Linked DNA regions of Homo sapiens: region 1 is linked to region 2. A link means that fine-mapping ties the variant in region 2 to the expression of a gene that starts in the linked region. Tissue or cell type: whole blood. Region 2 holds a variant in brackets; the other region holds the start of a gene. All regions are shown on one strand. Distances are between the middles of the regions.

Region 1 (5,570 bases), 32 kb after region 2:
GTATTTGCATCTGTGGCACTGAACATTTTACATGGATTATCTAGTTTCATCCCCAGGACAGCCCCAAGAGGAAGGTACCATAACTATCATGGGCAGGAGGTGTGGAGGTTCTGGCCGGAGTCACCCAGTGAGGACTTCGGAGGCCACCAGAACTCAGCCCTGGGCTCTGTGGCCTGTCTCCTCTTCCTCTTCCATCTCCAGGCTCCTCACACCCTGGGCTGCCACTCACTGTGGGCCGCTGTCTTTCTCTGTTCTTCCCTCCAGGGACCTCAGCCCCTTCCAATGCTTTACTTCCAGCCACCGACTCCAGCTCAGACCCCTCCTGAGATTGGCACTATCTCCTCCTGCTCCTGGGGCCCTCCCACGGGAAACATTAAAACTGGGAGTCCCCCGTGTGTCGGCTGAGCAGGCTGGACTTGTCCGAAAGGCCATGGAGCGCTCTTGAAGGGTTTTAAAGGAGTGACGAGGTCAAATGTGAATTTTAGAAAGATCTGGAGGGGGGAGGGGCAGATATGAAGGGTGGAGGCTGGAAAGCCAGTGAGGAACTGCCCCAGTGCCCTGAGATCCTGGATACCTCACTCTCCTTGTTCCATAGCCATCGGGTTGGGAAGATGTCACCTCCACATGGCCACTGGAACGGGTCAGACTTTCCGCAATTTTTTTCTTTTCTTTTTTTTTGTTTGAGGCAGGGTCTCGCTCTGTCACTCAGGCTGGAGTGTAGTGGCGCTCACAGCTCACTGCAGCCTTGACCTCCTGGGCTCAGGCAATCCTCCCACCTCAGCCTCCCAAGTAACTGGGACTACAAGCACACACCACCACACCTAGCTAATTTTTAAATTTTTTGTAGAGACAGGGTCTTGCTATGTTGTCCAAGCTGGTCTCAAACTCCTAGACTCAGGCGAGCCTCCTGCCTCAGCCTCCCAAAGGGCTGGGATTATAGGCATGAGCCACCGCACCTGGCCCCTTCCACAAATTAAAACTCTTAAGTTCATTCATATTGTTGTACAGCCGTCACCACCATTCAGAACTTTTTCATCTTGCAAAACTGAAACTCTTTCCCTATTAAACAACAGGTCCCCATCTCCCCTTCCTGAGCCCTTGGCAACAACCCTTCTACTTTCTGTCCCTGTGACTACCCTACGTAGCTCACACAACAGGAATCATGCAGTATTTGTCTTCTGTGACTGCTTCCTTAACTTAGCATCGTGTCCCCAAGGTTCGTCCATGCTGTAACATATGTCAAAATGTCCTTTTTTTTTTTTTTTTTTTTGAGACAGGGTCTCACTATGTTGCCCAAGCTGGAGTGCAGTGGCGTGATCACAGCTCACTGCAGCCTTGACCTCCCAGGCTCAAGCAACCCTCCCACCTCAGCCTCCTGGGTAGCTGGGACTACAGGTACGTGTCACCATGTATGGTTAATTTTTTTGTAGAGGTGGGATTTCACCATGTTGCCCATGCTGGTCTCAAACTCCTGGGCTCTGGCAATCTGCCTGCCTCGGTCTCCCAAAGTGCTGGAATTACAGGTGTGAGCCACTGTGCCCGGCCTGTCCTTCCTTTTTAAGGCTGAATAGTATTCTACTATGTGTATGCACCACATTTTGTGGATCAAGTCATCTCTTTTTTTTTTTTTTTTTTTTTTTTTGAGAAGGAGTCTTGCTCTGTCACCTGAGCTGGAGTGCAGTGGTGCGATCTTGGCTCACTGCAACCTCTGCCTCCTGGGTTCAAGCGATTCTCCTGCCTCAGCCTCCCGAGTAGCTGGGATTACAGATGTGCCTCACCAAGCCCGGCAAGTTTTTGTAATTTTAGTAGAGGCAGGGTTTCGCCATGTTAGCCAGGCAGGTCTCAAACTCCTGACCTCAGGTGATCTGCCCACCTCAGCCTCCCAAAGTGCTGGGATTACAGGCGTGAGCCACTGAACCCGGCCCAGGTATCTTGATAGATGCTTGGTTTGCTTCCATCTTTGGGCTGTCATGAATAATGTCGTGAATATGAACATGGGTGTGCAAATATCTCTTCCAGACCCTGCTTTTAGTTCCTTTGGATATATACCCAGAAGCAGGATTGCGGATCATGGGTAATTCTATGTTTAATTCATGAGGCATGCCATGCTGTTTCCATAGGACCTTGGGCACTTTTACCATGGACGTTGGGGCAGTCTTCACTGGCTTACCAGCCTCCACACCTTCATATCTGCCCGTTCCCTTCCCAGGATCTTTCTAAAATTCACATTTGACTTCATCACTCCTTTAAAACCCTTCAAGAGCTCTCCAGGGCCTTTGGGACAAGTCCAGCCTGCTCAGCTGATGCACCGGGGAGCATCTGTGATCAGACCTCCCCCCCCCCACAACCTCTCCAGCCTCATCTCTCTCACCTGAGGCATCACCAATCCACCTTCCTACCCCACGCAGTTTTCTGGGTTGGAATGCCCTTGCAACCAACCACAGTCCTTCCATGCCAGCCCAAAGGCGCTGAGTTCTTTTTCTTTTTTTATTTATTTTCTTTTTGTGAGACAGAGTCTCGCTCTGTCGCCCAGGCTGAAGTGAGGTGGCTCGATCATAGCTCACTGCAGCCTCCAGCTCCTGGGTTGCAGCGATCCTTGAGTTCCTTTTCGTTAGTTAACTGGAATTCACTGTCTCCTTGCCCATTGCAGTCCACGGCCTTCAGGCACCGTTGGACTGGTATTCAGCACCCTCGATCGACCCTTTCCGTGTCATCTCCCTGCAGGCCCGTGAAGCTCCCAGCGCCAGACCCGAGAGGCTACGTCGAGGTTTACAGGCAGATCCCCCCAGAGTCCCCGAGGTGACCTGTAATCGAACCCACCCACGTTCCAGCTCCTTCCCCACTCCCAAGCCCGCTCCTTAAAGCCCTCATCTCCTCACCCTGCATCACCCCTACCGTAAGGGTCCCTCACAGGCTTCGATCCCGGCCCCTATCATGGCCAAGCTGGACCTCAGTTTCCCCAGATGCAGAGCGACGTTTGTGGGCGCGGCCCCTCTCCCACCCCTTACCGCTGGGGGCAGCTCCCAGGGCGGGTCACTGCCGCGCTGCCGCTCGCAGATCAGACAGGTCCGGATGCCCTTGCAACCGCATTCCCGAAGGACTTCGGGGGTCTCGGCGGCAGCCGCCGCCATCGCGCCGTCCGCGTGGCCAGTGCGCAGGCGCGGCCGTGGGGGCCGCTGGGAGTTGTAGTCCGCGCCGGGCGGGGGCACGAGGCCTGGGTTCCGCTTCCTTCCGGTCGTTAACGCCCACGGGCTCGCGCGGCGCCGCCTCCTGGGCTCAGTTACCGCGGACGCCAGTGCCGGGCTCCAGGAGACGCAGGGCGACGCCACACGCCGGGGTGGCCGACTGGGTCAGCGCGGGCTGCGCCTCCTCGCCATGGGCCCCCTCTCGGCGCGGCTGCTAATGCAGCGCGGGCGCCCCAAGAGCGACCGGCTGGGGAAGATCCGGAGTCTGGAGTAAGAGCCGGGCAGCGGGTGAGGCTGTGTCCTCGGGGCCGGGCGGTCGGGGAGAAGAGCGGGGACCCTCCCCAACGGCCCGCTTGTCCCCGTTATCGCCCTCTGGGTTCGGCAGAGTGGTCCAAATGTCTTCTTGTTGGGAGATCGTGGCCCCACCCGCTCGCCGGGAGCCCCGAGGGGCCTCATCCCCTGAAGGGAGCCCGGACAGTTAGGGGCACAGCCTGCCGCTATCGTTAGAGGGCCTGGGAAGCACAGACGAGCCCCCGAAGGATCAGGAAGAGCATCCTAGAGGGGGCTAGGATGCCCCCGAGTCCTAAAGTAGTTGCAGCTTTTTTTTTTTTTTTTTTTTTTTTTTTTTTTTTTTTGTTAAGTGGTGTGGAGTCGGGAGTAGTGGCGCGCGCTTCTAGTCCCAGCTACTCGAGAGGCTGAGGCGGGAGGATCCCTCAGCCCAGGAGTTGGAGGCAGCTGTGAGCTATGATCGCGCCTAGGCGACTGAGTGACACCCCGTCTCTAAAAATAAAGTAACGGGGGGATGGGCGGGGCGGCTACACTTGTACGAGAAATGTCAGGTGAAAAAGCCTTCTGAGGTACCCGGGGCAGATTGGTGTAGGGTGCAAAGCCTGCCCGCCCCCTAAGCCTTCTGCCCCCAACTCCAGCCTGTCAGGATTGGAGCTGCTTTCCGAGCACCTGGACCCCAAACTCCTGTGCCGCCTGACGCAGCTGCAGGAGCTTGACCTGTCTAACAACCACCTGGAGACGCTGCCGGACAACCTGGGCCTGTCCCACCTGCGTGTCCTCCGCTGCGCCAACAACCAGCTGGGGGATGTTACTGCCTTGTGCCAGTTCCCCAAGCTCGAGGAACTCAGCCTGGAGGGCAACCCCTTCCTGACGGTAAGTGGGAGCCTCCCACCAGCTTCATACCTGGGGCCAGGACTCTGTTGGGCTCAGGCTCAGCATCTCCTGAGCCACTGCTCTTCACCCTCTCTTCCCCAGGTCAATGACAACCTGAAAGTCTCCTTTCTCCTGCCCACGCTCCGTAAGGTCAATGGCAAGGATGCGTCCTCAACTTACTCTCAGGTGGAGAACCTGAATCGGGAGCTGACCAGCAGGGTAAGGGGATGAGAGGATTATTGTGTGCTTAGGAGCTGTGGGGGCATTGGGAGAATGATAGAATTGGACATCAGGAGGATGTTGAGGAGGGTGACTGATAGAGGCTCTTTGCCCCAACAGCCCCTAGCCTGATGTGCTACTTTATTTATTTATTTATTTTTTGAGATGGAGTCTCACTCCGTCGCCCAGGCTGGAGTGCAGTGATGCGATCTTGGCTCATTGCAACCTCTGCCTCCCAGGTTCAAGTGATTTTCCTGCCTCAGCCTCCCGAGTAACTAGGATTACAAGCACCTGCCACCATGCCCAGCTAATTTTTTTTGTATTTTTAGTAGAGACAGGGTTTCACCATGTTGGCCAGGCTGGCCTCAAACTCCTGGCCTTAGGTGATCTGCCCGCCTTGGCCTCCCAAAGTGTCGGGATTACAGGTATGAGTCACCACACCCGGCCTGACTCTTCTAAGTAGCTTTTTCTGGGGTGTTTCTTTTTTACCTTTTTTTTTTTTTTTTTTTTTTTTTTTTTTTTTTTTTAGAGACAGGGTCTCGCTCTGCTGCCCATGTTGAAGTGCAGTGGTGTGATCGTATCTCACTGCAGCCTCCAACTCCTGGGCTCAAGCGATCTTCCCGCCTTAGCCTTCTGAATAGCTGGGGCTTTAGGCGCATGCCACCACGTCTGGATCATTTTAAAATTTTTTGTAGAGATGGGATCTTGCTCTGTTCCCCAGGCTCCAACTCCTGGCCTCAAGCGATGCTTCTTCCTCAGCCTCCCAGTGGCTGGGACTATAGGCACCTGGGTTGTTGCTGGTGTGTGTGTGTGTGTGTGTGTGTGTAGGCACCTGGGTTGTTGCTGGGGTGTGTGTGTGTGTGTGTGTAGGCACCTGGGTTGTTGCTGGGGTGTGTGTGGGGTGTGTGTGTGTGTGTGTGTGTGTGTGTGTGTGTGTGTGTGTGTTTTATGAGGCTGTGATTCCAGGAGGCTTCCAGCAGGTGGCGGGATTGAGATTCCCTGAGA
Region 2 (6,234 bases):
GTCAGGTGGCTCAGGAGAACAAGAGTGCCCAGAAAGCGAGCTGGGGAGGGAGGAGGCGCCCTGCCATGGCCTCAGACCCTGTTAATCAGGGGACTGGAGTCTCAAAGGCCACAGGGTAGGGGCTGGAATGGAGAGACATGGGGGACCTTTGAGTTTGTGGAAGGGGACAGGGCTCCTGCCTTGCCATGCAGACCAGAGGTGATGGTGGCCTGAGTTAGTGCAGAAGCAAGTGGGGACAGGGAGAAGTAAGGGAGAGTCCAGCAATGTGGAGGTGGGAGAATTGTCACGACCCGATGGGGAGAGGACTCATGGGTGCCAGCAGCTGAGTGGGTGAGGGAACCCTTCTGAGACAGCTGACCCAGGCGGTGGGGCAGGAATGCGAGGGAAGATGACAGATTCGGCTGTGGGCCTGGTAAAGTGGAGGGCCCTAGGCATATGTGCTGGGAAGAGAGATCAAGGCTGAAGGTGATGATGGGGTTGTCAGGCTGCCCTGGTCCTTGGAACTATGGGAGTAGATGAAACCAGTCAGGGAGGAGCAAAGAGAGGAGAGGGACCCAGACAGAACCCTGAGAATCGCATATCGAGGGGACAGAAAATGGGGGGACAAGCAGGCAGACTCACTGGAGCCAAGGAACAGGGTTTCCTGGTAGAAGGAGGGGTCCCCGATGACAGGGCTGACAGCTGAAACATCCTCTGGGTTTAGGCAGGCAGATCAGCTGAGGTCAGGAGTTGGAGACCAGCCTGGCCAACATGGCGACACCCCATCTCTCCTAAAAAATATATACAAAAACTTGGTGGGCGCCTGTAATCCCAGCTACTTGGGAGACTGAGGCAGAAGAATTGCTTGAACTCGGGAGGTGGAGGTTGCAGTGAGCCAAGATCATGCCATTGCACTCCAGCCTGAATGACGAGCGAAACTCCATCTCAAAAAGAAGGAGCTATTATAGGCCAGGCATGGTGGCTCACCCCAGTAATCTCAACATTTTGGGAGGCTGAGGCCGGCAGATCACTTGAGGCCAGGAGTTCGAGACTGGTCTGACCAACATGGTGAAACCCTGTCTCTACTAAAAATACAAAAATTAGCCAGGCATGGTGGCCCGTGCCTGTAATCCCAGTTACTTGGGAGGCTGAGGCATGAGAATCGCTTGAACTCAGGAGGTGGAGGTTACAGTGAGCCAAGATGGCACCACTGCACTCCAGCCTGGGCAACAGAGCAAGACTCTGTCTCATAAATATGATAGAGAAAGAAAGGAAAGAAAAAGGGAGGAAGGAAGGAAGGGAAGGAAGGAACGAAGGAAGGAAAGGAAGGGAGGGAAGGGAGAGAAGGGAGGGAAGGAAGGAACGAAGGAAGGAAAGGAAGGGGGGGAAGGGAGAGAAGGGAGGGAAGGGAGGAAGGGAGGGGAAAGAAAGAAATGAAGGAAGTGAGGGAGGGAGGGAAGGAAGGGAGAGAAAGAAAAGAGAAAAGGAAGGGAGGGAGGGAAAGAAAAGCAAGCAAGCAAGCTATTCTGTGTTTGGTTAGGAAACCAACTCTGCAAAGCACTGGCAATTACAACTTGCATTTTGCTTCTGTCTGGGCATGCTGGATAAATATGCCTGTGGGGTGGCGGCATCAGTAACGGGCACAGGAAGCTTTCTCAAGGATGAGTGAAGTCGCTGCAAGAGTGAGAATTCAACAAGCAAAGGACTCCTTTGCTGAAAGCACATTCATCTATGATGCAAACTACTGCGTTTACAAAGTGTTTTCTTCCTGTTTTGTGTGTGTGTGTGTGTGTGTGTGTTTTGAGACAGAGTCTTGCTCTCTGGCCCAGGCTGGAGTGCAATGGTGTGATCTTGGCTCACTGCAACCTCCGCCTCCCAGGTTCAAGCGATTCTTCTGCCTCAGCCTCCCCAGTAGCTGGGACTACAGGCGTGCGCTACCATGCCTGGCTAATTTTTGTATTTTTAGTAGATATGGGGTTTTACCAGTTGACCTGGCTGGTCTTGAACTCCAGGCCTCAGGTGATCAGCCTCCCAAAGTGCTGGGATTACAGGCATGAGCCACCGAGATTCATTTTACCAAGAACTCCACGTTGGAAAGCCATAACATGATTGCTTTTTGAGGACTTTACCCCTGAAATTCAAATGTTCCCTCACCCATAGCCATTGATGGGGGTGGCAGGAGGAGGGCCAGTAAGGAACCCTGGGATTTGCTTATGTCCATGTTAGGGCCTAACTTGCCTTTTAGGTCAGTAACCCGGAGGGGGAAACCTGGTTTATTAGACTAAGTGTCCTCCTGGTTTCATTCTGGCTGTCAGCAGTAGCCTGTAAAAGACAACTCGAAGTGTAGATGGATTTAACCTGGCGTCCGTAACATCTACTCTTCCAATTGTCATAAAATGTGGGCTGGCTGACATGAGTGGAATTTTTCCTTCGTTTGGATAAATGTGTCACGGTCCAATGCTGTTGTGACAGATGGAAAAATCCTATGTAGGGCACGCAGCAGCCTACCCGGCATGGAGGAAGGACTCCAAGGGACCGTCTGGCACCGCCGGGCTGATAGGAACCCATCTTGTCTGTCTGTGAATTATTCATGTGCTGCACTTCCTGAAAAGAATGCTCCTGTTTGACTGCCTCGCTCGTAAAACCGCAGAGAATTCACCGTTAAAGGTGAGAGGCTCCCTGCAGTAGGGAGTGGAAGGGGCCAGGGCACAGCAGAAACTCTTTGCTGCTGTCTGCGAACAGCATGAGAAGGACAGCACGCTGCACTGAAGTTGGGACCCCAGGGGTCTCGCTGGGTCTGTGAGTGGCAGTGC[A/G]CTCTGGGTGGCAACCCCCAATTAGCTCAGTGCAAGCTCTTCATGGTGCCATCCAACACCCTGGGCAGGGGCCAAGCAAGGTGGCCCATGCCTCTATGCCCAGCACTTTGGGAGGCTGAGGTGGGAGGATCACTTGAGCCCAGGAGTTCGAGACCAGCAGAGGCAACATAGCAAGACCCATCTCAATTTTTTTAAAAAATTTAAAAATTAGCTGGACATTGTGGCACATGCCTGTAATCCCAGTGCTTTGAGAGGCTAAGAGAGGATTGCTTGAGGCCAGGAGTTTAAGACCAGTCTGGGCAATACAGGAAGACTCTATCTCTAAAAAAAGAATTTTTTTTTTTTTTTTTGGCTGGGCACAGTGGCTCACATGTATCATCCCAGCACTTTGGGAGGCCGAGGCAGGCAGGATCACCTGAGGTCAGGAGTTCAAGACCAGTCCGGCCAACATGGTGAAACCCCATCTCTACTAAACATACAAAAAAGTAGCCAGGCTAGTGGCGTGCACCTGTAGCTCGGAGGCTGAGACAGGAGAATCGTTTCAACCCCGGGGTCGGGGGTTGCAGTGAGCCAAGATGGCACCACTGCACTCCAGCCTGGGTGACAGGGCAAAACTCCCTCTCAAAAAACAAACAAAAACAAATTTTTTAAAAACTACCACGGTGTGGTGGCTCCTGCCTACATGTAGCCTCAGCACTTTGGGTGACTGAGGGCAGAGGATCACTCGAGCTCAGGAATTCGAGGCTGCATTGAACCGTGATCGCACCACTGCAGTCCAGCCTGGGCGACAGAGCCAGACCCTGTCTCAAAAAAATAAAAAAAAAAATCCTGTGAAAACTCGGGCGTGGCCAGACGGATTCTCCCCTCCCCACCTTCCTTTCCCCTCCACTGCCCACCTGCACCCGCCCGCCCTGTCCCCACTCCCCGCCCCTCTACGCAGCCAGCGTCCAATGCTGGGCACCCCCCGAGGCTCACCCTGCCAAGCCTGGGGCTCCCCTTTTGCGCCCGGACCCAGGGGCAGGGAAAGCCCAGCTCGTGGTCTGTGGGTAGCCGGACCCCCGATGGGGCGGTGGGGGGCCTCGCCTTGACTCCCAGAGCTGGGGCCGGGGACAGGAGCTGGGGCAGGAGGGATGCGCGCGGGTCGGGGTCTTCCCACCTCCCCTGCTCCTCTCCCTCGCGCGATCCCGGGGTGGTTCCAGGTGAGGCGGGGACCCCCACCCCCCCACTCTCCGAGGAGGCGCCGCCAGCCCCGCCCCTCCCGGCCCGGCGGGTGACGTGGCCGCGGCTCTCCCGCGGGTGGGTCACGTGTTGGCGGCGCCTGGTTGCCTTGGCAGCGGCTGCGGCGGCCGCGGGGGCGGGGTGGAGGCGGGGCCGGGGGACCCCGCGCGACCGGCGGAAGGAGGGAGGGGGCCGCGCTCGGCGCCCCGGCCGGGCCACTGGGCCACAGGCCACGCGGCCACGCAGTCCGAGCGGGAGCCGAGCCGGGCGGGGCGAGGGCAGCTCCGGTGAGTGTGGCGGCGCGGGGGCCTGGCGCGGGGAGCGGGGTCCCTGCGGCTGGGGGGGCCGGAATTGGACCGGGGACGCTCGGCGGGGAAGGGGACGACTGTAGGCTGCCCGGGCGCGGTCACTACCCATCCGGGGTTGGTGACCTCCACCCCGCGGGATCCCTGGCGGGGTGCGGCGCCCAGAGGATCAGGGTCGGCGGCGCAGCCGGTTCCGGACACCGGGGCGTCCCTGGGGGAGGGACAGGGATGCAGCCTAGCGCCCCTGGGAGGCCCCCTCCCAGTGCGCCTGCTGGAGAGAGACACTCGCCATTGCCGGTGCCCCAGATGCTTAGAGGAAGTCAAACTCCAAGACCGCCCTCTGGAAATGTGTCCAGTAGGCCAGCCAGGAAGAAAAGCTCATCTCTAGAGAGGGGATCGCGTTATTCTACAAGACCTGTTTTCTCGGACTGCTCATTAAAGCAAAAAAAAAAAAAAAAAAAAAAAAGCAACCCCACAAGGTTCAGTCCCGGAGCATCCTCTAGGGTCTGTGCCACCTGACAGAAGTACAGGGCTCCATCCTGCCCCACCCCACCCCCTGCCTGGGATCCAGTGTGAGGCCCAGACTCTGTCCCTCCCCCTGGGCCACCGGGCCTGGCACACACAGTTGGCATTGGGAACATAAAGGATGGATTTGAACCCCCTCCTGGGCTGCTCCTTCGAGACCTGGAGACCTGTCTCAAGACCCAGCTCCAGGCAGACAGACATCGTTTCCTCCACAATCCCACCCACTCTGGGGACATCTGCAGGGCCTCACCGATGGGGCATGGGAGGCCTGGCGGCTCCCAGGAAGCCACCCTCAGCCCTCACTGCCCTGAGCTCTTCACCTCCACTCTCAGACCTGAGCCCAGCCCACCCTTACTGATGGGGCATCCCTCTTGTTCACCCTTCCTTCCTTTGGAGGCCACCAGGCTCTCCCTTGCGTCCCACTCCTGCCAGTCGGCCAGCCATTTCCCTGGGTTGAACTGTGGTCCCAAACCAGAATGATCTAGCAGTGCCCAGACCGTTCCACTCACCAATTTCTTCCATTCTCCTGTGGCTGGACGCCCAGTCATGCTGCCCAGACCCTCTGGCTCATTCCACAGCCCCAGGCTCCAAGTGTCTTCCACCCACATCTCCCTGCCCCCTCCACCCCCCAGGTGGCAGCCAGTCTTCCCTCCATATCTCCTGGACAAGGAGAGCCACCCCACATGTACACCTGGAGTGGCCTTCCCGTCTCTCGGAATCCTTCCATGCAGGCAGCATCTTGTCTTTGAGGAAAGGTCCCTCTTTTTTAAAATTCTTTTTAGAGGCCAGGCGCAGTGGTTCATGCCTATAATCTCAGCACTTTGGGAGGCCAAGGTGGGCGGATCACTTGAGCTCAGGAGTTCTAGACCAGCCTGGCCAACATAGCAAAACCCTGTCTCTACCAAAAATACCAAAAATTAGCCAGGTATGGTGGCACACACATGTAGTCCCAGCTACTCGGGTGGTTGAGGCGGGAGGATCGCTTGAGCCTGGGAGGTAGAATTTGCAGGGAGCTGAGATTGTGCCACTGCACTCCAGCCTTGGTAACACAGCAGGACCCCATGTCAAAAAAAATTATTTTTAGAGACAGCGTCTTACTCTGTTGCCTAGGCTGGTCTCCAGCTCCTGGCCGCAGGTGATCCTCCCACCTTGGCCTCACAAAACACTGGGATTACAGGCATGAGGCACTTTGGCATGCAAAGGGCCGCTCTGTCCCCTCCCCGGTGTTACCTGCAAGCACCTTTTCCTGGCCTTGGTGTGAGGCAGCCAGTCCTCTGCTCCCTGCCCTCCATTGAAGCCTTTAGCTCAGTGGATGAGGATTGCCCCCCCCTCTTTTTTTTTTTTTTTTTTGAGATGGAGTCTCGCTCTGTTGCCCAGGCTGGAGTGCAGTGGTG

The links. PIP is the estimated chance that this variant, and not a neighbour inherited with it, causes the effect.
Region 1: LRWD1 starts here. The variant in region 2 is fine-mapped to the expression of LRWD1 in whole blood (TOPMed, PIP 0.98).

The regions. Positions count from the first base shown.
Region 1 is chr7:102,461,706-102,467,275 of GRCh38, forward strand. LRWD1 (leucine rich repeats and WD repeat domain containing 1) reads left to right here and starts at 3,279. Exons shown (of 15, transcript NM_152892.3): 1 at 3,279-3,455; 2 at 4,112-4,346; 3 at 4,449-4,565. The coding sequence starts at 3,376. ALKBH4 (alkB homolog 4, lysine demethylase) reads right to left here and starts at 3,158. Exons shown (of 3, transcript NM_017621.4): 1 at 3,009-3,158. The coding sequence starts at 3,131. It overlaps MIR5090 (microRNA 5090), which reads left to right and starts at 4,037; the gene lies at 4,037-4,121. RefSeq lists enhancers at 2,901-3,550, 3,680-4,206, 3,830-3,929, 4,207-4,732, 5,096-5,155 and a silencer at 3,060-3,489.
Region 2 is chr7:102,429,365-102,435,598 of GRCh38, forward strand. ORAI2 (ORAI calcium release-activated calcium modulator 2) reads left to right here and starts at 4,211. Exons shown (of 4, transcript NM_001126340.3): 1 at 4,211-4,297. RefSeq lists silencers at 1,978-2,272, 3,671-3,810, 3,841-4,620. The variant A/G (reference allele first, on the strand shown) is at 2,793.